Linked DNA regions of Homo sapiens: regions 2 and 3 are each linked to region 1. Evidence: fine-mapped expression QTL. A gene starts in region 1. Each other region holds a variant in brackets. All regions are shown on one strand. Distances are from middle to middle.

Region 1 (8,169 bases):
TTCTCATTTCTCCAATGGCAGCCTTCAGAGCTGAGAGGCCGAGTCAAGAGGGTGCCATCTCCCAAGTTCCCATGATTCCTGGGGAGCGTCTGTGTAGCTGCCCACCTGGACCGAGGTGGTCCCCACACTGAGGCCAATTGGTTGGGGTCCGGGGTTGACCTGGGCAGGGGACACATCAAAACTGCTCGAGGCCAAGCGCGGTGGCTCACGCCTATAATCCCAGCACTTTGGGAGGCCAAGGCAGGTGGATCACCTGAGGTCAGAAGTTTGAGACCAGCCTGGCCAACTTGGGGAACCCTTGTCTCTACCAAAAATACAAAAATGGTTGGGCGTGGTGGCTCACACCTGTAATCCCAGCACCTTGGGAGGCCAAGGCAGGTGGATCACGAGGTCAGGAGTTCAAGACCAGCCTGGTCAAGATGGTGAAACTCCGTCTCTACTAAAAATACAAAAATTAGCCAGGCGTGGTGGCGCGTGCCTGTAATCCCAGCAGCTACTCACTCAGGAGGCTGAGGCAGGAGAATCTCTTGAACCCGGAAGGCAGAGGTTGCAGTGAGCCAAGATCGCGCCACTGAACTCCAGCCTGGGTGACAGAGTGAGACTGTCTCAGAACAGCAACAACAAAATGCCCGCTGCTGCTGGGTCCAGAAGAGCTTGAATAACTGCATGTTCTTTTTCTCAATTTTCATTTCCCAGAACTGGGCACCTCCGGGCTGTGAAAAGTTAGGGAAGTGTCTGACACCTCCAGAATCCATTCCCAAGAAGTGCCTCTGGTCCCACTAGCACCTGCGCAGACTCAGGCCAGGCCTAGAATCTCCGGTTGGCCCTGCAAGTGCCTGGAGGAAGGATGGCTCTGGCCTCGGTCCTCCCCCAACCCTGCCCAAGCCAGACAGACAGCACCTGCAGACGCAGGGGGACTGCACAATTCCACCTGCCCAGGACCTGACCCTGGCGTGTGCTTGGCCCTCCTCCTCGCCCACGGCGCCTCAGATTTCAGGACCCTCCTCCTCGCCCACGGCGCCTCAGACCTCAGGACCCTGCCGTCTCACGCCTTTGTGAACCCCAAATATCTGAGACCAGTCTCAGTTTATTTTGCCAAGGTTAAGGATGCACCTGTGACAGCCTCAGGAGGTCCTGACAACAGGTGCCTGAGGTGGCTGGGGATACAGTTTGCCTTTATACATCTTAGGGAGACACAAGATCAGTATGTGTATGGCGTACATTGGTTCAGTCAGCCTTCCACTGAATACACGATTGAGTCTGGCCCAGTGAATCCGCATTTTTATGTAAACAGTAAGGGAACGGGGCAATCATATAAGCGTTTGTCTCAGGGGAGCCCCAGAGGGATGACTTCCAGTTCCGTCTGTCCTTTGTCCACAAGGAATTTCCCTGGACGCTAATTATGAGGGAGGCGTGTAGCTTCTTATCATTGTAACTATGTTATTTAGAAATAAAACGGGAGGCAGGTTTGCCTAATTCCCAGCTTGATTTTTCTCTTGGCTGAGTGATTTTGGGGTCCGGAGATTTATTTTCCTTTCACACCTTCTCAGCAGCTGCCAAGAATCAGGTGCCCAGCTCCCGCTGCCTCCCGGCCGGCCTCCTCCAGAGGCCAGCGCCACATTGGTTGTTGAAGGGCAGGACTCGGGGCTCCTTGCTGTTCCCACGCCAGCCCAACAGCCCGGGTTGAAGGAAGCCACAGGGCCAATTCTGTGTTGAACCCTCCCCAGGCCCCTCCTCCAGTACCCCCCCACCCCACGCCTTCCCAGGCCCCCCTCGGGCCATCTGGGAGACAGAATCAGGAACAAGGAAGGGGAAGGCGGAGGCCTCCTGGGCTGGACGTGGACGGCTGAAGTGTAGCTCACACACTTGGACCGGTGGGGCCGGCTCATGTGGCAGCTTCCCCGGGGACGTGAGGATGTCAGGGTCCTCCATTTCCACCTTCCCTAGGGGTCTGGAGCCCAGGCCCCAGGCCTTGCCAGCCCTGACCACCGCACACTGCGAGGCAGCCGCCCCTACCACGCCCCTTGGCATCAGACGATGGGTCCCCCACCCGCCCTGGAACCGGGGCCCCAGCAGCCGCATGCAGCCTCCGGCCTCCCCCTCCGAAGGCTCCTGGGGGCTGCCTTCCACTGAGTGGGTTTTCCCTTCTGCAGTAACTGCCAGGCCAAAGCTGAATTGTAAAAGTTGCGAAATGATGGGCCGGGCGCGGTGGCTCACGCCTGTAATCCCGGCACTTTGGGAGGCCGAAGCGGGCAGATCACGGGGTCAGGAGATCGAGACCATCCTGGCTAACACAGTGAAACTGCGTCTCTACTAAAAATACAAAAAATTAGCAGGGCGTGGTGGCGGGCTCCTGTAGTCCCAGCTACTCGGGAGGCTGAGGCGGGAGAATGGCCGGAACCCAGGAGGTGGAGCTTGCAGTGAGCCCAGATGGCGCCACTGTGCTCCATCCTGGGCGACAGAGCGAGAGTCCTTCTCAAAAAAAAGTTGCGAAATGAAGAAAAGTCTTGGAATAGAGCACAAGGCATTTTAGCTCTGGGGATTTTCTTGAAAGGAAATTGTGTTTGGGGGGAGTTATGCCTCACACAACCCCCTGGGTACCAGTCCTCGGGCGGCCAGGGGGTTCACAGCTCCCCACCCCAAGGCTAAGGGGTCACCTGGCCTCTGCAGGCGGACAGAAGGGCTTCTGCCCTCGCGGATGCGCGCCCTGGCCTGGCCACACCTTCCGGCCTCCCTCCCCCGGGTCCGGGCGGGGAAGAGCCGCCTCAACGGCAGGGCCCATCCGCGAGAGGCCAGCGCCCCCGGCCGGTCCAGCCCAGGCCCGCCGCCTCCGCCCTGGGCTGCTCCCTCCGGGCCCTGCACCGCCCTCCTGCTACTTGGACCGCTTCCTCACGCCCTTCTCCACCCCGCGCGCCAGCCTCCCGCGCGCAGCGTGGGGATCTCGGCCAATAAAGGAGAAAGGGCGCGGCCCGTACGCGCGCCAGGTGCGTGGGCGAGACCAGCTCACGCCCCTCCTCCAGCCGCCAAGGCCCCGGCCCACAGCTGCCTGGCTGCAGTCAGAAGCGTAGCCCGAGACAAGGAAGGGCGCCTTGACTCGCACTTTTGTCCGGTTCGAACGTTCTGCTCAGTGGTGCGTGGAATGCGAGCGCGTCTTAAAATCGATGGCGCCTAGGAGTCCATGAAATACGGTACAGGCTTCCGGCGACGGATGCCCCGCCCCTCACCCACGCTCCGCCCTCCGGGGATGCCCCACCCCTCGTGGCGGTCCCGCCCGTCCCCGCGCAGGCGCGCTCGGGCTGCCGCTGGCTCTTCGCACGCGGCCATGGCCGACTCCGAGCTGCAGCTGGTTGAGCAGCGGATCCGCAGCTTCCCCGACTTCCCCACCCCAGGCGTGGTATTCAGGTGCACGCACAGGCCGCCCTCGTGGCGCCCCGACCTGCGGGCCTACGGATGGGAGCGCGTGGCCCGCGACCTCCGGGCGGGCGGGGCGGGAACCCTCGTCTTTCGCCCCCGGGGCCCTGCCCTCCTTCGGCCCCGGCGTCACCAGGCCTGTCCTTGGGTCCAGGGACATCTCGCCCGTCCTGAAGGACCCCGCCTCCTTCCGCGCCGCCATCGGCCTCCTGGCGCGACACCTGAAGGCGACCCACGGGGGCCGCATCGACTACATCGCAGGCGAGTGCCCAGTGGCCGCATCTAGGGCGCTTCCGCCTCTGCGCGCGCCGAGGGCAGCACGTGGGCTCTGCGCGTCTGCTTGGGGGAGGGCCTTTGGGGTGCTTCAGGGGGCGCCGGGACGGGCGCCGTGCTTGGGTCGCCCGGGAAGGGTTGTGAGATTGAGCCCCCGAGGCCGCCGCGCTGTGCAGGCGTCCTTCCCGCAGGTTCCGGGTCCCCAGCCCAGGACAGGCGTGACCGAGTTGCCGGGTCAGTTGGTCTCCCTGGAGTGCCCAAGCTGAATCCACAGGGCCCAGCTGCCTTGCTTCTTGTTCCTTCTGCGAGCTGGTATTGAGCGCCTGCCACGAGCCAGGCCTTCCCTGGTGAAGATCACGGAATGCCCACCCAGGGAAGGGAGGCCTGGAGGCCTCCGGGAGAGCCCAAGAGGTGGCCCAGGGAGAACAGAGTGTTCCTGGCCGTCTTGCCTCTCCTAGGGTGTGACAGCCCACTCCCTGGACACTGCCCTGAGGAAAGCGCCAGCTCTTGCTGGAGCCACAACACTGCCAGAGCTCCCTTCTCACCTCCTGCAGGAAGCCCTCCCTGACCTCCTGCCAGGCCGGGGCAGGGTTTCCCTGAGCGTCCCCCAACCATCACAGCTCAGGCCACCTCGAGAGACTCCCTTTTTAGACAGAAGCCCTGGTGCAGAGCTGCCTTTGAGAGTAAGCTGAGGCCTGTCAGGTTTCTACCAGCCCAGTTACAGATGGGCTGCTCAGCTCAGAGAGAGGGGTGGTGACTCCCCTAGGAACACACAGCTAAGAAGTGGTCCCTTAAAAGACAGACCCAGGTCTGCACTCTGACCTGGAAGCAGCTCCGGGTAGGTGATGGGTAACATTCCTTAAATGGTGCATGTCACTGGCCTTTCAGCTGGGAGCCAACCAGGTACCCCTTGCCACCGGCCAACCCTGGCCCCTGGGGATTCCCATGCTGCCGAGTCACTCCTGTCACTTACCCTGACAGGCCTAGACTCCCGAGGCTTCCTCTTTGGCCCCTCCCTGGCCCAGGAGCTTGGACTGGGCTGCGTGCTCATCCGAAAGCGGGGGAAGCTGCCAGGCCCCACTCTGTGGGCCTCCTATTCCCTGGAGTACGGGAAGGTAAGAGGGCTGGGGTGGCCAGAGGAAGGGCAGGGCCAGGCCACCGTGGCCACTCTCCCCCAGTTCTAAAAGGCCTTCCCAGGCGTGTCAAGTGGAGCTGCTGTGGTTACAGTGGCCTTGGGAGCTCAGAGAGGTTGAGACATAGGCTGGGCTCACACAGCCAGGTAACAGCAAGGTGGGGTTGGAGTCAGGGTCTAGGGTGGCAGCTGCCAAGCTGTGCAACAAAGCTGTTTTCTGCGGGAGGCTGAGGACCACACACCACTTCCCACTCCAGGCTGAGCTGGAGATTCAGAAAGACGCCCTGGAGCCAGGACAGAGGGTGGTCGTCGTGGATGATCTGCTGGCCACTGGTGGTAAGGGTCTCCCCGCAGCCAACTGCTGTGGCTCCAAGGGCCTGGTGGGAGTGGGACAGGACCTCGCTGTGTGACATGGGATGCAGCTTACTGTTGTCCAGAGGGTGCCTGGTGGCCAGGCCGACACCTTCCTCTCCCCATGCCTTCCCCTCCCCAACCCAGGGGCTGGCCTGGAGCACCTGCTCTCTGCAGCCCAGGCCAACTGGGGACCTCACCCTCCCATCCCCAGGAACCATGAACGCTGCCTGTGAGCTGCTGGGCCGCCTGCAGGCTGAGGTCCTGGAGTGCGTGAGCCTGGTGGAGCTGACCTCGCTTAAGGGCAGGGAGAAGCTGGCACCTGTACCCTTCTTCTCTCTCCTGCAGTATGAGTGACCACAGGGCCTCCCAGCCCAACATCTCCAGCTGGATCCCAGGGAAATATCAGCCTTGGGCAACTGCAGTGACCAGGGGCACCGGCTGCCCACAGGGAACACATTCCTTTGCTGGGGTTCAGCGCCTCTCCTGGGGCTGGAAGTGCCAAAGCCTGGGGCAAAGCTGTGTTTCAGCCACACTGAACCCAATTACACACAGCGGGAGAACGCAGTAAACAGCTTTCCCACAAGAGCCGTCTCCTGTCCTCCTGTTCCCCAGGGCAGGGAGCCCCAGGACAACACCAGACTTCAGCTGTACTGTGGGCATGTGCTGCTTGGCGTGATGCCCAGCAGAACCTGTCCTGGTTCTCACCTCAGGAGCTAGAACCCTCCAGGCACTGCAGGAAGAGGCCATGTGGGCCCATCTTCTAGGGGAGCAAGCGAGGGCTCTTCTGCAGATCTAGTGGCTGTAAGCATGACTTTATTAGAGTTTAGGAGGTCAGAAATACTGAAGTCAAGGTGTGGGCAGAGGCCAGTCCCTTCTGGAGGCTCCAGGGATGTCCTACTTGTCCTGCCCAGCTTCTCCAGGCTGCCTGTGTCGGGGCAGGGCCGCGTCTTCAAAGCTGGCTGGCTCTGGCCCTGTCATGAAGGCCCTGTGATGACATGGGGCGTAGCTGGACAATTCAGGATCACCTCTCCAGTCTTGAAATTTTTTTTTTTGAGACGGAGTCTCGCTCTGTCACCCAGGCTGGAGTGCGTGCAGTGGTGCGATCTTCGCTCACTGCAAGCTGTGCCTCCTGGGTTCACACCATTCTCCTGCCTCAGCCTCCCTAGTAGCTGGGACGACAGGTGCCCACCACCACACCCGGCTAATTTTTTGTATTTTTAGTAGAGATGGGGTTTCACCATGTTCGCCAGGATGGTCTCGATCTCTTGACCTCGTGATCTGCCCACCTTGGCCTCCCAAAGTGCTGGGGTTACAGGCGTGAGCCACCACACCCACCCCAGTCTTTCTTAATGACAAAAGTCACCCTTTGCTGTGGGAGGTCCCATATTCAGAGGTTCCAAGATTAGAGGGGATGGCCTGCCACCCACACTACCCAACCCCATATTGCCACAGAGCCCCCTTCACCCCCAGCCACACTCCCGATGGCCCCCCAGGGGGTGCTGGATCTGGCTTCCCTTCCCCACCAGCAGCAAGGACAGAGGTGCCCACAGAAACCGGTTTAATGTGAATCCACCAGGTGAGCCCCATGAAGGGGCCCACCGCCCGCAGCCAGAGACCCTCGGGCTGTGCAGCCTGCAGCCCACATCTGCCTCTGGCCCTCAGGGGCGCTGGGGAAAGGAAGGCCAAAGTGTATCATGTTCATAAAAGAAAATGCTGGTGGGCCCAGGCCAGCGAGCTTCTGAAGCCCACGTCTGTCCACAGTGGCCCCCAGGCTCACAGCCCCTCCTCAGCACGTGTCTGGTGGGCCAGGCGTGCAGTGATGTGGGCGAGGTCCGCGGCCTTGTCCAGCTTGACGTAGGTGTCGGTGCGGATGCGGTGGAGGCTGAGCCAGTCCGGCAGCAGCTCGGAGAGGAGCAGCAGGTGCTTCTCCATTTCCCCTGGGGGAGGAGAGGAGGACACTGAGGCTGGTGCTGGGCCCCAGCCCTGCACGGGCAGCACTTGAAACCAGCCTGACCACCCAACCTCTGTGCCTGCCTGGTCGCCCTCAGGGCCCCATCACCAGGACTTAGGGCAGAGGTGGTTCTGATCAGAGGCCCAGGTCTGGGTGGTGTGAACAGTGACCGGAGAGAGCCAGGCCTACAGTTGAGGCCCTGTGAGGAGGCACCGAGCATGGAGGCCGCCAGCCCATGAAAGCCCTGAGGCAGGAGGTGCCCTGTAGCGTCAGGACCCCTATGTGCTCAGGGCCTGGTCACCAGAGGCCTGGGAGGCAGTGGAGGGTGCATGTGGGGCCCCTTCTGACCAAGGACTGCAGGTGGTCAGGGAAAGGGCCAGAGCTGTGAGGGGGAAGCTGCCTCCAGAGGCTGCAGGTGTGGAGGGGCCGGGCGGAGGCTCAGGGGTGGCTCCAAGGAGGGCAGAGCGCCCAGGACACACCAGTGCAAGAGGCCAGCGCCCACTGCACATCTGAACAGAACAGATCAGTGACAGACACCTCTGCTCAGAAAGCTGGGGAGGCAGCTGCAGCACCAGGCAATTCCACCCTGCACGCCCCTTCACCCCGCCCTGCACGTACCAGGGCTCATGATAGTACAACAGCTGCCCACCATCCTGGCACAGGCCACCTCCATGCTGAGCGCAGGCTTGCGTTCGGACACAAAGACGCTCCGCAGCACGCGGGCCAGCTCAGGCAGCCGTTCTAAGCGCTGCAGCCGCTGCTCCTGCTCCGGGCACCGCGTCATCTGTGCCAGCTGCTTCTGTGCCTCCTTGGCTCGGATCTGCAGCAGGTACCGGGACCTGGTTAGTGGGCAGCAGGTCACCAGGCGCCCACCCGCCATCACTGGGGACGACTCACCCGCTCCAGCAGATCCTGGGACACCCCCTTCAGAGCACTGGGAGAGGCTGCAGGCGGGGTGGCTGGTGGGGTAGCCGGCAGTGCTGGCCTGGGAGACCCGGGGCTGCTGGGCGCAGCAGAGCGCAGGGCCAATTGACTCAAGGCCTTCTCC
Region 2 (8,169 bases), 38 kb before region 1:
CTCCACTCCTTATTTGGAAAATAGGGTTAAGGAGGGTCAGCCCTGACCACAGAGGAAGTGGAGAGTCAGGGCCACCCAGGCCAGCTCCTGTTGCCACAGCAGCCTCGTCGAGCCACCAGAGTCCGGGGAGGGTTGCTCAGTGCCCCTCGTTTGAAACAGACAAGCACTGGCCTGCTCGTCTTCATAATAATCCCATAGCAACCAGTAGGAATGGAAACTGCGTTTCTTAAAACTCTGAAATTCTGAAGGATACTGATCCATGGCTCACAGCTGTGCTCGCTGAACGTGGACAATCATTTGGGGGCTTTTAGGCCTTTTTTTTTTTTTTTTTTTTTTTTGAGATGGAGTCTCACTCTGGTCACCCAGGCTGGATTGCAGTGGTGTGATCTCAGCTCACTGCAACCTCCGTCTCCCAGGTTCAAGCAATTCTCCTGCCTCAGCCTCCCGAGTAGCTGGGACTACAGGCTCCCACCACCGTGCCCAGCTAATTTTTGTATTTCTAGTGGAGACGGGGTTTCACCATATTGGCCAGTCTGGCCTGAAACTCCTGACCTCAGGTGATCTGCCTGCCTCAGCCTCCCAAAGTGCTGGGATTACAGGCATGAGCCACCACACCCAGCCAGGACTTTTTTTTTGAGACAAGGTCTGGCTCTGTCACCCAGGCTGGAGTGCAGTAGCTCGATCACAGCTCACTGCAGCCTCAAACTACTGGGCTCAAGCAATTTTCCTGCCTCAGCCTCCTGAGTAGCTGGGATTATAGCCGCCCATCACCACACTCGGCTAATTAATTTGATCTTCAATCACTGATACCCTTTCTTCCACTAGATCGAATCGGCTACTGAAGCTTGTGCATGCGTCACGTAGTTCTGGTGCCATGGTTTTCAGCTCCATCAGGTCATCTAAGGTCTTCTCTACACTGTTGATTCTAGTTAGCCATTCGTCTCATCTTTTTTCAAGGTTTTTAGCTTCCTTACCATGGATTCAAACATCTTCCTCTAGTTCGGAGAAGTTGGTTATTACCGACTTTCTGAAGCCTACTTCTGTCAGCTCGTCAGAGTCATTCTCTGTCCAGCTTTGTTCCCTTGCTGGCGAGGAGCTGCGATCCTTTGGAGGAGAAGAGGTGCTCTGGTTTTTAGAATTTTCAGCTTTTCTGCTCTGGTTTCTCCCCATCTTTGTGGTTTTATCTGCCTTTGGTCTTTGATGCTGGTGGCCTAAAGATGGGGTTTTGGCGTAGATGTCCTTTTTGTTGATGTTGATGCTATTCCTTTCTGTTTGTTAATTTTCCTTATAAGAGTCAGGTCCCTCAGCTGCAGGTCTGTTGGAGTTTGCTGAAGGTCCACTCCAGACCCTGTTTGCCTGGGTATCACCAGTGGAGGCTGCAGAACAGCAACTATTGCAGAATAGTAAATATTGCTGCCTGATCCTTCTTCTGGAAGCTTTGTCCCAGAGGGGCACCTGCCTGTATGAGGTGTCAGTGGGCCCCTACTGGGAAGTATCTCCCAGTTAGGCTACACGGGGGTCAGGGACCCACTTGAGGAGGCAATGTGTCCGTTCTCAGAGCTCAAACACTGTGCCGGGAGAACCACTGCTCTCTTCAGAGCTGTCAGACGGGGACGTTTAAGTCTGCCGAAGTTTCTGCTGCCTTTTGTTCAGCTATTCCCTGCTCCTAGAGGTGGGGTCTACAGAGGCAGCAGGCTTTGCAGAGCTGCGGTGGGCTCTGCCCGGTTCGAGCTTCCCTGCCGCTTTGTTTACCTACTCAAGCCTCAGCAATGGCGGACGCCCCTCCCCAGGCAGGCTGCCACCTCGCAGGTGGATCTCAGACTGCTGTGCTAGCAGTGAGCAAGGCTCCGTGGGCATGAGACCCTCCGAGCCAGGCCCGGGATATAATCTCCTGGTGTGTCGTTAGCTAAGACCGTTGGAAAAGCGCACTATTTGGGCGGGAGTGTCCTGATTTTCCAGGTGCAGTCTGTCACGGCTTCCCTTGGCTAGGAAAGGGAAATCCCCCAACCCCTCGCACTTCCTGAGTGAGGCGATGCCCCACCCTGCTTCGGCTCACCCTCCATGGGCTGCACTCACTGTCCAACCAGTCCCAGTAGGATGAACCAGGCACCTCAGTTGGAAATGCAGAAATCGCCGTCTTCTGCGTCAATCACGCTGGGAGCTGCAGCCCGGAGCTGTTCCTATTCAGCCATGTTGGAACGGAATCCCCACACCCGGCTAATTAAAAAAAAAGTTTTTTTTAGTGACAGTGTCTGTCTGTGAGACCCAGGTTGGTCTTGACTTCCTGAGCTCAAGCGATCCTCCCTCCTCAGCCTCCCAAAGTGTTGGGATAACAGACGTGAACCACTGGATCCAGCCCTTTTAGGACTTTTAAGGGAGAGAAGAAAGGTGGTTCCTGCCCGTGGTGCCCTGTGGGGGTTTTAGATGTTCAATGGTAACCTGCTCACTCTGCAGGGAGGCTGTCCACACCTGCTTTTCATAGCCAAGAAAGGCGCCGATAAATAATGAAAGAACAGGGTCAGCAGATGAGAGCTGGCCCAGCAGCCTGGGACGCTGTCCTCAGAAGGCCCACGTGTGGGACGTTGCCCTCGGCTGGTCAGAAGGCACATGTGTGGGAGGTTTTTGCCCTCGGCTGGCGTCTGGGAACAGGAGGTCCCCCCGCTGTTCGCTGATAGGAGCAGCTCACCTTGCCACACTGTTTTTGCACATGCCACGATTTATGCCCAGCATCCTCCTTCTGGGCATAAAGAGTCTCGGCACATGCCAGGCAGAGGCGGCCGCACTGCCAGCCTAGGCAAAAGCCCTGGGAACTGAGTCTCGCACAGCTTCCCCGTCAGCATCCCGCACCTGTGCTCGCAGCCCGAGCGTCCCGTGTGGCTCCGCCTGGGGAGGGTTCCACGCTGCGGCTGGTCTCCCCGGCCCCGCCCGCACCTTCTCCCCTGGCTGATGCCCTCCCCGTTGTAAGTCATGGCAGTGAGTAGGACTGTCGCCAAGACCTGGGACTCCTCCCAGCGAGAGTGCTCCCTTGCGGTATCTTCTGAGTCAGTGGTGAGCGTGGAGCCCCCTCCCTCAAGCCCTGGGACTCCTCCCCGCAGTATTTTCTGGTGAGTGATGAGCGTGGAGCCCACTCCCTTTACAGCATTTTCCGCTGCATCCATTCATGTTATTTGTGGCCTGGAACAGGTAGGAGGATGACCCAGGTGAGCACAAGCAGATCCGGACGCAGCTCTGCTGACTGCCGACCTTCTGGGGAGGCCAGACCCGCCTCGGGAAGCCTCAGGACGCAGCCTGCAGGGAGGGTCGGGCACATGGCACCCAGTATTCAGATGTGCGGCCTCACTCCCAGCCCGAAGGGAGCCCAGCAGTGGTCCTGGGCATGGGCAGACAGTGTAACGGGCGAAACATACTGCTCCCTCCCATCCCAGGCCTTGTGCCCCCGGCCCACCTGCCATTCTGTACTCTCCCACCTGGACTGGAGACAGCAGGAAGTGCAGAAGCCACCTGAGAGGATGAATCTGCACTCGGGGAGGTGGAGGGCAAGGAGCTTTGGGCGTGTGTGGCCAGTCCCCCTCAGGCTGGCCTCAGGGAGCTGTACCGTCCCAGCCTGCACTGCAGGTTTCTGCTGCCTCAGTGGGATGCACCTCACCCTGACATGGGCGCATTCGCCCACTGTGACTAGGTGCCACTGAGCCCAAGGTCCCTTCTCAGCCCATGAGCAGCTCTGCGGGCGTCCTGCCCCCTGTCCTCCCACCTCCCTTTCTTCCTCATCAGCTTCAGGGGACACCTCTCTCTAGGTCCTCCTTTCATTCCAGCCTCCATTGTCCTCAGAAAAGCCATTTCAGTGACTTCAAAATAAACCATCTCAGGGCTGGGCGTGGTGGCTCACACCTGGGATCTCAGCACTTTGGGAGGTGGAGGCGGGTGGACTGCTTGAGCTCAGTTCACTCAAGACC[A/G]GCCTGGGCAACGTGGCAAAACTCCATCTCTACCAAAAATACAAAAAAGTTGGCCTGACACGGTGGTTCACACCTGTAATCCCAGCACTTTGGGAGGCTGAGGCAGGTGGATCACCTGAGGTCAGTATTCAAGACCAGCCTGGCCAACATGGTGAAACCCCATCTCTATAAAAAAAATACAAAAATTAGATGAGCTTGGTGGTGGGTGCCTATAATTCCAGCTACTCAGGAGGCTGAGGCAGGCGAATTGCTTGAACCCAAGAGCCGGAGGTTGCAGTGAGCCAAGACCACGCCACTGCACTCCAACCTGGGTGACAGAGTGAGACTCCATCTCAAAAAATAATGATAATAATAATTAACTGGGCATGGTGGCATGTGCCTGTAGTCCCAGCTACTCAGGAGGCTGAGGTGGGAGGATCACCTGAGCCCGGAAGGCAGAGGTTGCAGTGAGCCAAGATCGCGCCACTGTACTTCAGCCTGTTTGTCAGAGTGAGACCCTGTCTCAAAAAAATAAACCATCTCAAAAGGGATCCAAAGCTAAAAGGGCCAAACAGAATTGTGTCCCATGAGACATGGAGGGCCTTTGAGAGGAAAAAGCCCAGACCTGGCCCAGCTCTGGGACTCCACACGTTAGGAGGGGCTGAGGCAAGGAGCGGCCACCCTGCCAAGCTGAGCCTTACAGGCAGGGGCCATGTAGCCTGCCGTCCACCGGGGAAATGGATCATTGCATCCAGACAAAGACCAAGGTGTGACCACGCAGACCTGGATGTCCAGCCACCCACGTGCGCCCAGAGCGGCCCACTGTCCTCCCGCGGTCCCCGGGGCCCAGCGCCCATCCCTCCAGCAGCCGTTCCCAGTCAGCACGCTGCCACCCCCGCCCCCGGTGAGGGCTTCCCCTCTGTTCAGACCCCTGTCACTTCACACAGGCCCCGAGGCTGCTGCTTCTTTGACTTACCAGGACCCAGCGAGTCAAACGCCCACCGGCCCCGACCCAGCAGTGTCAGGGGAGCCCCTGGTCCATCTGCAGAAAACCAGGATGCCCGCACTTCCTTTTTTTTTTTTTTTCAGACGGAGTCTCACTGTCACCCAGGCTGTCCTGCCTCAGCCTCCCGAGTAGCTGGGACCACAGGCGCCTGCAACCACGCCTGGCTAATTTTTTGTATTTTTGGTAGAGACGGGGTTTCACTGTGTTAGCAAGGATGGTCTCGATCTCCTGACCACCTCGTGATCCACCTGCCTCGGCCTCCCAAAGTGCTGGGATTACAGGCGTGAACCACCGCGCCCGGCCTTTCATTCTTTTATAGCCGCTTTACTGAGACGGAATTCGCTGGTGAAAGTGTGCGGGTCATTTTTAGTGTGTTCTCAGAGTCGTCCTGCCACCACACATCGTCACATCATCTTTGTCACCACGGAAGGAAGCCCCAGCCCTGATGGGGGTCACTCCCTTGTGCTCCCCGAAGCCCCTGGCCGACCCGCTCCCCTTTCTGTCTCTAAGGATCTGCCTTTTCTGACGTGTCCGGTGAATGGAATCTTACGGCTCATGGGCCTTGTGTCTATTTTCCCCTCACACAGGGTTTTTGGGCTTCACACACACAGCCTGTGTGAGGACTCCATTCCTTTTCGTGGCTGAGTCATGGTCCACAGTGTGGAGGGACCACGTGTGGCTGAGGCTTCCACCCATGGATGGGCATCCGGGTGTTTCCAGCTTGGCTGCCAGGGAGCGAGCCGCTGTGGGTGTTGGTTCATGCACAGGTTTCCACGTGGACACACTTTTCAGTTCTGTTGGGCGTGTACCAGGGAGGCGCTGCCGGGCGGCGTGGCCACCCTGCGTGGCGCTGCCGGACCTCTCACCAGGTGCTGCGTGTCACGTTCTTACATGGTGTGTGAGGGCTCCAGTTTCCAGTGAGTTCACTTTTAATGTTTTGTTTTGTTTGGTAAAAATCAACCTTAGACAATCAGCGATCAGACTCTAGTCCCTGTCGTGGTGAACTGTGGAGAGACCAAAGTGAGCCTCTCTCCGGCTCTTGGAGCACCAGGGCCCATGCAGCCTGTCTTGGGGTCATTTGAAATGGTGGAAACTTTACAAGGGCCCGATGGGCAGGTGAGCCCCACTCGGCCTCCAGGCACAGCCCTCCTCAAGGTCCCTGCTGTCCATGCAGGTGGCAGTCCTACTCTGTGGGTGAGTCCTGGAGCCACTTGTGACAGGAGGAGGCTGGATGGGGTGAATTTGGAGAAAAGTGGCAGGTTTTTGTTTTTTATTTTTTTGAGACAGGGTTCTCTGTCTGTTACCTAGGCTGGACTGCCGTGGCGCGATCTCAGCTCACTGCAGCCTCTGCCTCCTGAGCTCAGGGGATTCTCCTGCCTCAGCCTCCCAAGTAGCTGGGATTACAGGTGTGTGCCACCATGCCCAGCTGATTTTTTGATTTTTTATAGAGATGGGGTCTCACCTTGTTGCCCAGGCTGGTCAACGAGAGAGAAAAGTATTTCAGAGACTTAAAAAAAGAACCATCGGTGGTCTCCAGTGTGCTTAAGAGCTGCGGGTGGAGCTGTTTGCGTTCCTCCTGAAGGCTTTGGCTGCCAGACATGGCTGGGCTGCAGATACTTGCTTTACTAAGAGGTTTTCCCTCCCTGCCGTCCAGGTGTGTCCACAGGTGTCCACACAACCAGGTGTCGTGAATGTCTGTTCACACTAAGTGGGCTTCTCAGTAACCCCCTGGCCACACCCCCATCTCACCCATCCCAGGAGCCTCCTGGGACCACACACGGGGGTCGGGAGCTTAAAAGAACAGAAACACGGCCGGGCACAGTGCTCACACCTGTAATCCCAGCACTTTGGGAGGCCAAGGCAGGCAGATCACCGGAGGTCAGGAGTTCGAGACCAGCCTGGCCAACATGGCGAAACCCCGTCTCTACTAAAAATACAAAAACTAGCTGAGCATGATGGAGGGCGCCTATAATCCCAGCTACTTGGGAGGCTGAGGCAGGAGTAATCGCTTGAACCCGAGAGGCAAAGGTTGCCGTGAGCCGAGATCGTGCAGGCAAAGGTTGCAGTGAGTCGAGATTGTGCCCTCCAGCCTGGGCGACAACAGCAAGACTTCGTCTCAAAAAAAAAAAAAAAAAAAAAAAAGCCAGAAACGCATTCTGTCTCGGTCTGGAGGCCGGAAGTCTGAGCTCAAGGTGTGGGCAGGACCTCGCTCCCTCGGAAACCTGCAAGGGACCTCTTGCCCCTGCAGCTTCTGGTGGCCCCCAGCCGTCCGGAGCCCATGGCTGTGTGTCTCCCGCCTCTGACCCCATTGCCACACGGCCACCTTCGCCCTGTCTCCTATAAGGACTGCAGTGTGTGGGATGAGGGTCCACCCCCATGTTAGTGACCTCATCTTACTGAATCATATCTGCGGCAACCCTGTTTCTAACTAAGGTCACATGCTGAGCTACACTGGGGCCATGATTTCAGCATAACTTTTGGGGATACAGCTCCACCCATTAACACAGATGAACTGTGATTTATTTAACCAAATTTCTGTTCCCAGTATCTCAACCACAATTTTAAATTGGCATAATGGGTTATACATAGCTGTAATTATTTTCTTAGGATAAACTCCTACAAGTGGAATTGCTGGGCCATGATCTTTTTTTGTTTGTTTGTTTAGTGAGAGTGTCTCACCCTGTTGCCCAGGCTGGAGTGCTGTGGTGTGATCATGGCTCACGGCAGCCTCAACCTCCTGGCCTCAAGTGATCCTCCTACCTCAGCCTCCTGAGTAGTTGGGACCACAGGTACACACCACCACACTTGGCTTTTTTTTTTTTTTTAGAGTTGGAGTCTTGCTGTGTTGTCCAGGCTGGTCTCGAACTCCTGGCTTTAAGTGATCCTCTCATGCCCTTTTTTTTTTTTTGAGACGGAGTCTTGCTCTGTCACCCAGGCTGGAGTGCGGTGGCACAATCTCGGCTCACTGCAACCTCCGCCTCCCGGGTTGAAGCGATTCTCCTGCCTCAGCCTCCCAAGTAGCTGGTACAGGTGCCCGCCACCATGCCCAGCTAATTCTTGTGTTTTTAGTAGAGACTGGGTTTCATCATATTGGCCAGGCTGGTCTCGAACTCCTAACCTTGTGATCCGCCTACCTCGGCCTCCCAAAGTACTAGGATTACAGGCGTGAGCCACCGCACCCAGCCCCATGATTGCCTTTTAAGATAGGGTAGCTGCACTTTCACTAAGACA
Region 3 (8,169 bases), 460 kb after region 1:
AGGCCCCTGTTTCCAGAGAGGTCACATTCTGAGGATTCGTGTGGACTGAGTTGTTGGGAGCCACCGTTCACCACGACACGCGCGCATGCTCTGAAGCAACACCGAGCAGGGAAGGCCTAAGGCACCCAATGGGCTCCGGGAGCCTCTCTGGGCAGGCAGCAGTGAGCCGCGAGAGGCTGGCGGAGGGCGTTGTGCGCAAAGGCCCTGGGGCAGGAAGCCGCTGGTGGCTCTGTACAGCGTGAAGGGGGCCAGGGTGTGGGGCTGGGGAAGCTGGGTGGGACTGAGCCCCAAGCGGAGGTGGGCGCCGGGTCACAGGCCTCTTGTCATTGGCATGGGAGTAGTGACACTGTCCCGCCCTCTGAGTGGGAGGGCAGAAGCCATCGGTGGTTCCTGCGTGGAGGAAGACATGGCAGACTCACGTTTTAAAGAGCCAGGGTCCCTCCAGCCGCATTATTGGGAGCGTATTGTGACGTCTCGAGTGAGAGGGCTGGACCTGGGAGCGCTCTCTCTGCAGTGAGACTTACGGCCTCGGAGGTGCACTGTCCGCAGGACTGTTAGGCGACCAGCATTCTCTGGACCATCCCACCCTGGGATGTCAGCCCACCTAAGGGTTTCCCTCCTGCTTGGCACCACCCTGAGCCTGAGCCTGGTCTCTCCCTGCCCAGACCCTGCAGTCTCACCGGGGCCTGCCTGGGCGCCCCCAACTTGCTGGGCCTGAGAACCACATCTCTCTGGCTGGCCTCCCACCCCAGGCTGGGCCTGGCTCTCTGCCCCCACCTCCCAGGCCTCTCCAACGGAGGGGACCCAGGAGGAGCCGTCTCACTCGGTGGGCTCTGGGGCAGTGCCCAGGGGTCAGGCCCATGCAGCAGGACGGGGTCAGCCATCAGAGCTGTGAGGCCGGGGCAGCCATATGCCCACATCTCCCTGTGATGTGGACCTGCCTAGGGAGGGAGAAGAGGGGAGAGAAGACCCTTGGGGCTGTAGCCTCGAAATCTTCCACGCCACGTCCCCACGGCTGCTACCAGCCAGGGAGGGGAAGGGCTCATTCCCACGGCAGGTTTGGTACCAAAGTGCCCACCATCGGCCCCGTCTACCAGTTCTGGGAAGTTGGCCCCATGCCTGTTGTGGTTGTACAGACAAGGACACAGGCCTGAGGGCTTCAGGAACCTGCCTGGCAGCCCAGTGGCCTGGTGCTGAGCCATGGTGCCCAGTGTGCCCTTCCGTGCCCGTCAGCACCATGCTCAGCCTCCACACAGGCAACCCCTCCCTCTGTGCACCTGCAGCACCCTCCAAAAGGCCCTGGCTCTGTTATTGGTTTCATAAGTGAAATTCTCTCAGATGAGTCACGAGGACACCAGGCAAATTTGTCATTCCTCTGGGTTGGCATGAAGCTTCTTTACTGCGACAAAATACATACTCCTAAAATTCACCGCTGCCACCATCTGAAAGGGCACAGTTCGGTGGCAGTTTGGTGGCAGTGAGTTGTCCATGGCATTGTGCACCCGTCCCCTCTCGCTGGTTTTGGAGCTTTTTCCTAACCCTAGAAGGAAACCTGTTCCTCTGGGTAGTCACTCTCCATCCCCCGCCCCCAGCCCCTCGCACCCATGGACCCGCTTTCTGTGTGTGCCTGTTCCGGGTGTTCCCTAGAAACGGAATCCCACCATGTGTGGCCTGTTGTGGCTGCACCACCTGCAGGTTTCTCTGTGTCGTGGTGAGCGTCACCATCATATTTCTCCTCGGGGCGGAGGGGCCTCCCTTCCTCACGTGGGACACGTCGTGTTTCTCCACCAGCCAGGTGACCCAGTTTCGAAACCCACTATAGACATCAAATGAGATGCTGGAGCGAGCACGGCACCACTTGTCATTTCCCAGTGGAGACAAGCAAGGGTGGGGAGAGGGTGGTGGGTGGTGGCAAAGCGTGGCCCGGCCTCAAACCCTGGAGCCCCGCACAACCCCCTGCACCCTGCTGGTGGGGGAGGAGCTCCGGCTGGGGCCTGCTGCCGGCGGTGGGGGTGGGGGCCTCCACAGAGGGCCGTCTGGACCTCAGATCCACAGCCCAGGGCGGCCGCCACAGCACGGGACTTGGTCAGTGTCATTGGAGCGTCGGCGGCCCCTTTGTCCTTTCGCGGAGGACACGGGGACATCACAGGCCGCCTGGGGAGCCTGGGATGCTCTTGCTCCTGAGGGGTCAGGGCCTTTCTGGGACCTGTGCTTTGATTTTGGTTTTGTCAGACAACAATCCCACAGGCCCAGGGCGGTGCCATGTGAGGCCTGTGGGGCTGAGTAAGGTCTCAGATCCCCTGAATTTAACGTCCTCATCCCATGGCTGGGGTGATGGAGGCCTGCACAGAGGCCTGTGGGGCAGAAGAAGGTCTCAGAAACTCCCAGCATTTAACGTCCTCATTGTATGGCTGGGGAAACGGAGACCCACACAGCCCAGTGACCCGCAGCTGGGCACCCGGGACCAGCAGTGGGAGGGGGCAGCCGTCCAGCCTTTGGCTACGCCACCGAGGGCCGGGTGTGTGCCGAGGTCAGGGACAGGCCACACTGCCTGTCACCTATCACCCTTTCCTGAGCACCTGGAGTGACTGACCCCGACATGCTGAAGACCAGGAAACAGGCCCAGCAAGGTCACAGCAGGTGTCCAGGGTCACATGGCCACGCCGGGGGAGCGCGGCAGGTCGCCTTGCTGCTGCAACAGGCCACACACACTTGGAGGCTTGGAACACACATTTATTCCTCCACAGTTCTGGAAGTCAGGGTCCAAAATCACTCTCACTGCTTCCACGAACATCAGGGTGTTGGCGGGGCTGGGTCCTTCCGGAAGCTCCAGGGGAGAATCTTTTCTCTTGGGGAGAATCTGTTTCTTGCCTTTTCCAAATTCTAGAGGCCTGCATTGCTGGGCTCAGGGTCCTCTGCCTTCAGAGCCCGCAGCGCGTGTCTCTAACCTCTGCTGCCATAATCAACATCTACTTCTGGCCAAGAGGGAGGTTGGCTCAGCATTGAGGAGCTTGGTGATGACATCAGGAGCCCTGGGATCTTCTCCCATCTCAGCGTCCTGAACGTCCCCCTTTCACCACGTGAGGTTCCGGAATCATGATCTTATTCCGCCCACCACAGGGAGGCTAAGCGTGAGTCCAGGCTGGTCTGCCTCCCCTGTTAATTCAGGTCCTGGCCATCTTCCGGAGGGGAAACTGAGGCTCTGAGAGGGAGGCGACCTGCCTGGTCATGTGCTGGTGAGTGGCCCAGCCCAGGCGAGAGCTGGTGGTGGGGCTTCCCTGCCCTCCCCTAGGCGATTCTGGCCAAGGGAGGTGGGTGCGCCGGGAGGTGCCCATGGCCTTGTGCCGGGATGTGGCGCTTGTGCTGGAGCCTGTGTGGGCACCATCCAGGTCCCTGCGTGGATCATGCCAAGGGGAGGGGAGCGGACGGGGGGGCAGGGCCCTTGGGACAGGAGGGCAGTGCTGTGGGAGGCTGCTCACTGTGACACCTTTGGAGATCCGCCTGGAGCAGCTGCTGTGGCTGCCTTGTGTTTAAACGTGGACAGTGTTTGACCTTCGGTTACTAAAGCAGCTCCATGATTGCACCCTCCGCCCCAAGGGGGGCGGGAGGAACTGCCCTTCTCGTGCCTGCCGGGCTGGGCCATGGCAGAAGCTGGGGGTGTCTGTGTGTGATGTGGGTGCACATGGTCTGTACGCTGTGCGTGCTGCATGTGCTTGTGGTGTGTATTGTGTGGTATGTATCGCTCATGGTGTGTATTTGTGTCTCGTGTGTTGTGTGGTATGTGGTGTGTAGTGTGTATTGTGTGTGATGTGTGTGCAAGTGTGTGGTGTGTATTGTGCATGGTGTGTGTGCACTTGTGTGTGGTGTGTATGGTGCCTCGTGTGTGTGCATTTGTGATGTGTGTAATGTGCCTGGTGTGTGTGCACTTGTGTTGGTGTGTATTGTGCTGGGCATGTGTGCACTTGTGTGTGGTGTGTATTGTGCTGGATGTGTACTTGTGTGGTGTGTGTATTGTGCTTGGTGTGTGTGCACTTGGGTGCAGTGTGTATTGTGCCTGCTGTGTGTGCACTTGTGTTGGTGTGTATTGTGCTGGGTGTGTGTGTGTACTTGTGTGGTGTGTGTATTGTGCTTGGTGTGTGTGCACTTGGGTGTGGTGTGTGCCTGGTGTGTATGCACTTGTGTTGGTGTGTATTGTGTAGAGTGTGTGTGTACTTGTGTATGGTGTGTATTGTGCCGGGTGTGCGTACTTGTGTGGTGTGTGTATTGTGCCTGGTGTGTGCACTTGGGTGTGGTGTGTGTGGTGCCTGGTGTGTGTGCCCTTGTGTGTGGTGTGTGTGTGTGATATGTGTGTACTTGTGTGTGGTGTGTGGTGCTCATGTGCATGTCCCATGCAGCGTGTGTGGTGTTCGCTGCTACCTGAAGGTCACCTGTGCGTGTAGAGCCTC[G/A]CTCAGCCCTCTTGGCTGTGAAGCCTCCGTCTGTCTCTCATGGCCTCAGTTTCCTGCTCCGTCGGGGAAGGCTGCACCGGCCTGGGTGTCTGGAACCGAGGTGCTGGTGAGGGGGGACGAGTGGCTGCTTGCTTCTTTTTCCAGGTTGCTGGAAGCCTCCTGCCTCCCGCCCAGAGCCATGCTGGCCTGTGGATCTTTCCGAGTAAAGCGATGGAAATGGTCAGAGAGGCCGCAGTCGGCTTGGGGCCTGCGTGGGAGGCAGGGGCCGAGGACTCGTATGCTGTCCCCAGCTCAGGACTGGCTGTGGGGGCTGTGGTGAGCCCTACCCTGTCCCGGGAGAGCGGCTGTGTGCACCACACACACGCAGGCACACACATACATGCCCACGCGTGATGCCGAGTGCCTGTGGGGTCCTGTGTGACCATTCCCCCGACAGCCCCAGGGGCCTCAAGAAGGAGACGACAGGTCTTCTTCAACTCTTCACCTGGAGAGTTGGGGTCCCAGGGCAGTGGGGCGGCTGAGGCAGGCTCCCCGGATCCAACCCAGGTCCCAGCCCCCAAATGGCACCTCAGGAGGTCCCCACGTCTCACGGCAGGGGTCTGGGCAGGGCCTGGGCTGGCCCTGGTCAGTGCTGTCCCTCACCTGTTTGACCCGGTCCACTGGGACACTGTTGGACCCCCACTCCCTGTACAGCTCCCCCGTGTGGGCAAATCAGCAGGTCATCCCAGTTCTGGGGCTGAGGGTGGCGGGGTCTTGAGGCAGGTGCAATGGTGGCCCCTGAGGGATATGCCCATGTCCCAACCCTGGGGACCTGTTGGTGTGGCCTTATTTGAAGCCAGAGTCTTTTCTGGTGTCATGGAGCTGGGTTCGCACAGGAGTGGGGTGGGGCCCTGAATCTTATGATGGGTGTCCCTACAAGGACAGGGAAACGAGAGGCACGCACAGGGGAGACAGCAGTGTGAAGCCAGAGGCAGGGACAGCAGCAATGTGGCCACAAGTCAGGGAGCTCCCGCAGCCACCAGGAGCCAGAAGAGGCAGGAAGGCGGCCCTGAGCCACCTTGACTTTGCACTTCCGGCCCCAGAGCTCTGAAAGGATCGCTTCTGCTGCTGCTGTCAGGGAAGCCCCAGGGGACGCACACAGATGCGAAGGGGCAGGTGGGCCAGCCCAGAAGACTCAGGCTCCGACCCGCTGCTGTCCCTGGCCCACCACGACCATGCTCCGCCCACCAGGCTTCCACAGCGAGGAGGACGTGGGGGTGCAGGGTAGACCGTTTGGGCCTCTGGGCTCCTGACACCTGGCGGAGCTCTCTGGGAAGAGCCCTGCCCTGCCTGGTCTGAGATCCTCCTCCTCAGGGGTCATGGGGCACCCCTACTCCAGCTGTACCCTGCACACCTCTCACAGGACTCTGCTATCTTCCTGGGAGGCCCAAACACATCCAATGGTCCCAGGAGGCGGGTGGGTGCTGGGCGTGGCCCAGGACTTGAGACGCCTTTGGGGTGAATTTGAGCCAAGGCTGGAAAGGCGAAGATGGGAGGACCAGAGGCAGGGGTGAGGTGCAGGTTCTTCACTGTGATTGGAGGAGACTGGCCCCGCCTTCCCCACAGTTCTTCACATCGGGGTGGATGTGGGGCAGATGGGTTTCCTGGGGCCATGATAACCAAGTATCACAGATGGTGTGGTTAAAACGGGAGTTTATCGTCACAGTTCTGGAGGCTGGAAGTCCAAAGTGAAGATGGTGGGGCTGGTTCCTGCGGATGTCAGGAGGGAGGGTCTGCTCCGGGCCTCTCTCCTGGGCTTGGCGACACTGTCTCCTCCGGGTGTCTACGTGTGACCGTCTCTCTGGGTGTGCCCGCGGCTCAGTGGAAATCTCACCTTTGAATAACAGTGCTAGTGAATTAGGACCCGGCCTAATGACCATGTCTTCACTTGAGCATCTGCAAAGCCCCTATTTCCAAAGAAGGGCCCGTGCACGGGTGTGGGGGTGGGGCCCTGACGTCTTTTGGGGGATCGAATGTAGCCAAAACATGGGATCTCACTCGTCCAAAGGTTCAGGGGCCTCCTGCATTGCCTCATAGGTGTGGGTCCCCAGCTTGGTGGGAAGGAGGTAGGGCCGGCATCCTGCTCCCAGGGAAGCAAAACCAACACAGGTGACACCATGCTGAGACCGCCCAAGCTCAGCCGTACGGCCTGTTCACACATTACCACATTTCTGCTCTTTCCCTGTGAATTTATCTTACTTCCCCCCAGAACCAGCAGGAATGACATTTCTTGCTAAATACCTCAGTGTGCCTCTCCTGGGAACGAGGGCCTTCTCCCGAGGGTGGCCAGGCCAGCTGGTTCTTCCCGGCTGCCGATTTTCATTCTGTGGTTCTGAAGAAAGTCTGAGGGAGGATGTGGCAGCGTGGACACAATGGGAACCTGAAAGTCCAGCAGTGGGCAGGTCCAGGGCCAGCTCGCTGCCTGAGCAGCTTGGGACGCACACACAGGGCCGCCCATCTCCCCACTTCCTCTTAAAGGAAGGAACAGGTCCAGCCTGGGCAACATAGCGAGACTCCATCACTACAAAAATTAAAAAATTAGCCAGGTGTGGTGGTGCGCACCTGTAGTCCCAGCTACTCGGGAGGCAGAGGCAGGAGGATTGCTTGAGCCTGGAGGTTCAGGCCGCGGTGAGCCAACATCGTGCCACTGCACTCCAGCCTGGGCAACAGCGCGAGACCCTGTCTCTAAAAAATAAAAAAAATAAAAGTAAATAAGAGTAGGAGCAACGGTCCTGCTGTAGGGTTTGCTCTGTGGCTTTGAGGTGGCATGGGAGCTGCATGTGCAGGTCCAGGCCAGGGCTGGGAGGGAGGGGCTCCGGGCAGCCGACCTGGAGTTTCCCAGCGAGTTCTGCCAGGAGCCGGGGTCTGTTTTGGTGATTAGTGGACAAGCGTAGCTGGGTCCCCAGCACACTCGCAGGGCCTCGTGGTCAGCAGAGGTTCTCCCGAGATGAACGGGCCAGAGACCATGCTTCTCCCTCACCCAGCAGCCTGCACCGGCCGTCCCCACATCCTGGAAACCACTGGAGAATCGGGCCTGGGATGGAGCCGAGAACTCCCATCCCTGGAGATATCTGTCGGGCACCCACGGAGGAAGAGTAGGAAAGGAATAAAAATTCTTTTGTAATGCTCTCGGCTGTGAAGTTCAGCACTTTAGCCAGAAATCTGAGTGGTGTGCTCACAGCCTGACCCGGTCCAGAGCCCCACCTCTCACGCTCCTGCCCCCGCCAAGAATAATGGGAACAGATGGCGCCATTTTCCTCTGGTCCTTCCAGGGTGATGCGATGCCAGGTCATTGTAGTGATATTCGACGAGGGAGCAGGTCTAGATCCTTCTGGATGAAGGGCAGAGTTGCTGAAGCCTGAAGGTCACCTCTGGCAGCCTCGGTGGGGCCTGGCGGGCGGGCTGGCAAGCATTCTCCCCTATGAAAAGCTGACTCTCGTAAAACCCTCCTTCTTCCAGTCCGGGGGAGTTCCATCCACGTGAGGAGAGCTGGAGCCAGTGTTTTGGTGGAAGCAGGCAAGGCTTTGGAAAGCGCCCTTCCCTGCATGGTGAGCCAGAGGCTCCCTCTGGGCTTGTGTGAAATGGACCCCGTGGCGACCCCACGGGCAGAGGGGACAGCTGCCCAGGTGTGGGTTCTGCCATGCCAGCCTGCAGAGGCCTCTCGTCTTACAGAGGGCAGTGACGT

The links. PIP is the estimated chance that this variant, and not a neighbour inherited with it, causes the effect. A credible set is the group of variants that fine-mapping cannot tell apart.
Region 2: its variant is the best candidate, but not a certain one, in a credible set for the expression of APRT in lung (TOPMed, PIP 0.65).
Region 3: its variant is the best candidate, but not a certain one, in a credible set for the expression of APRT in putamen (GTEx, PIP 0.50).

What each region holds. Positions count from the first base shown.
Region 1 is chr16:88,807,053-88,815,221 of GRCh38, reverse strand. It overlaps APRT (adenine phosphoribosyltransferase), which reads left to right and starts at 3,294. Exons shown (of 5, transcript NM_000485.3): 1 at 3,294-3,402; 2 at 3,566-3,672; 3 at 4,666-4,799; 4 at 5,074-5,152; 5 at 5,382-5,883. The coding sequence starts at 3,323. The coding sequence ends at 5,524. It overlaps CDT1 (chromatin licensing and DNA replication factor 1), which reads right to left. Exons shown (of 10, transcript NM_030928.4): 8 at 8,019-8,169; 9 at 7,740-7,941; 10 at 5,964-7,107. The coding sequence ends at 6,944. GALNS (galactosamine (N-acetyl)-6-sulfatase) reads left to right here. Exons shown (of 14, transcript NM_000512.5): 14 at 697-1,488. The coding sequence ends at 783. RefSeq lists enhancers at 1,551-2,234, 2,235-2,919, 4,425-4,960, 7,868-8,169 and silencers at 2,632-2,891, 3,142-3,541.
Region 2 is chr16:88,845,421-88,853,589 of GRCh38, reverse strand. All of the region lies in intron 1 of GALNS (galactosamine (N-acetyl)-6-sulfatase), which reads left to right. Among named protein-coding and RNA genes, the nearest start is that of GALNS, 7.4 kb to the left of the region's middle. RefSeq lists an enhancer at 3,247-3,416. The variant A/G (reference allele first, on the strand shown) is at 3,954.
Region 3 is chr16:88,345,538-88,353,706 of GRCh38, reverse strand. It overlaps a transcript of ZNF469 not described here. Among named protein-coding and RNA genes, the nearest start is that of ZNF469, 33 kb to the left of the region's middle. RefSeq lists an enhancer at 2,984-3,951. The variant G/A (reference allele first, on the strand shown) is at 4,446.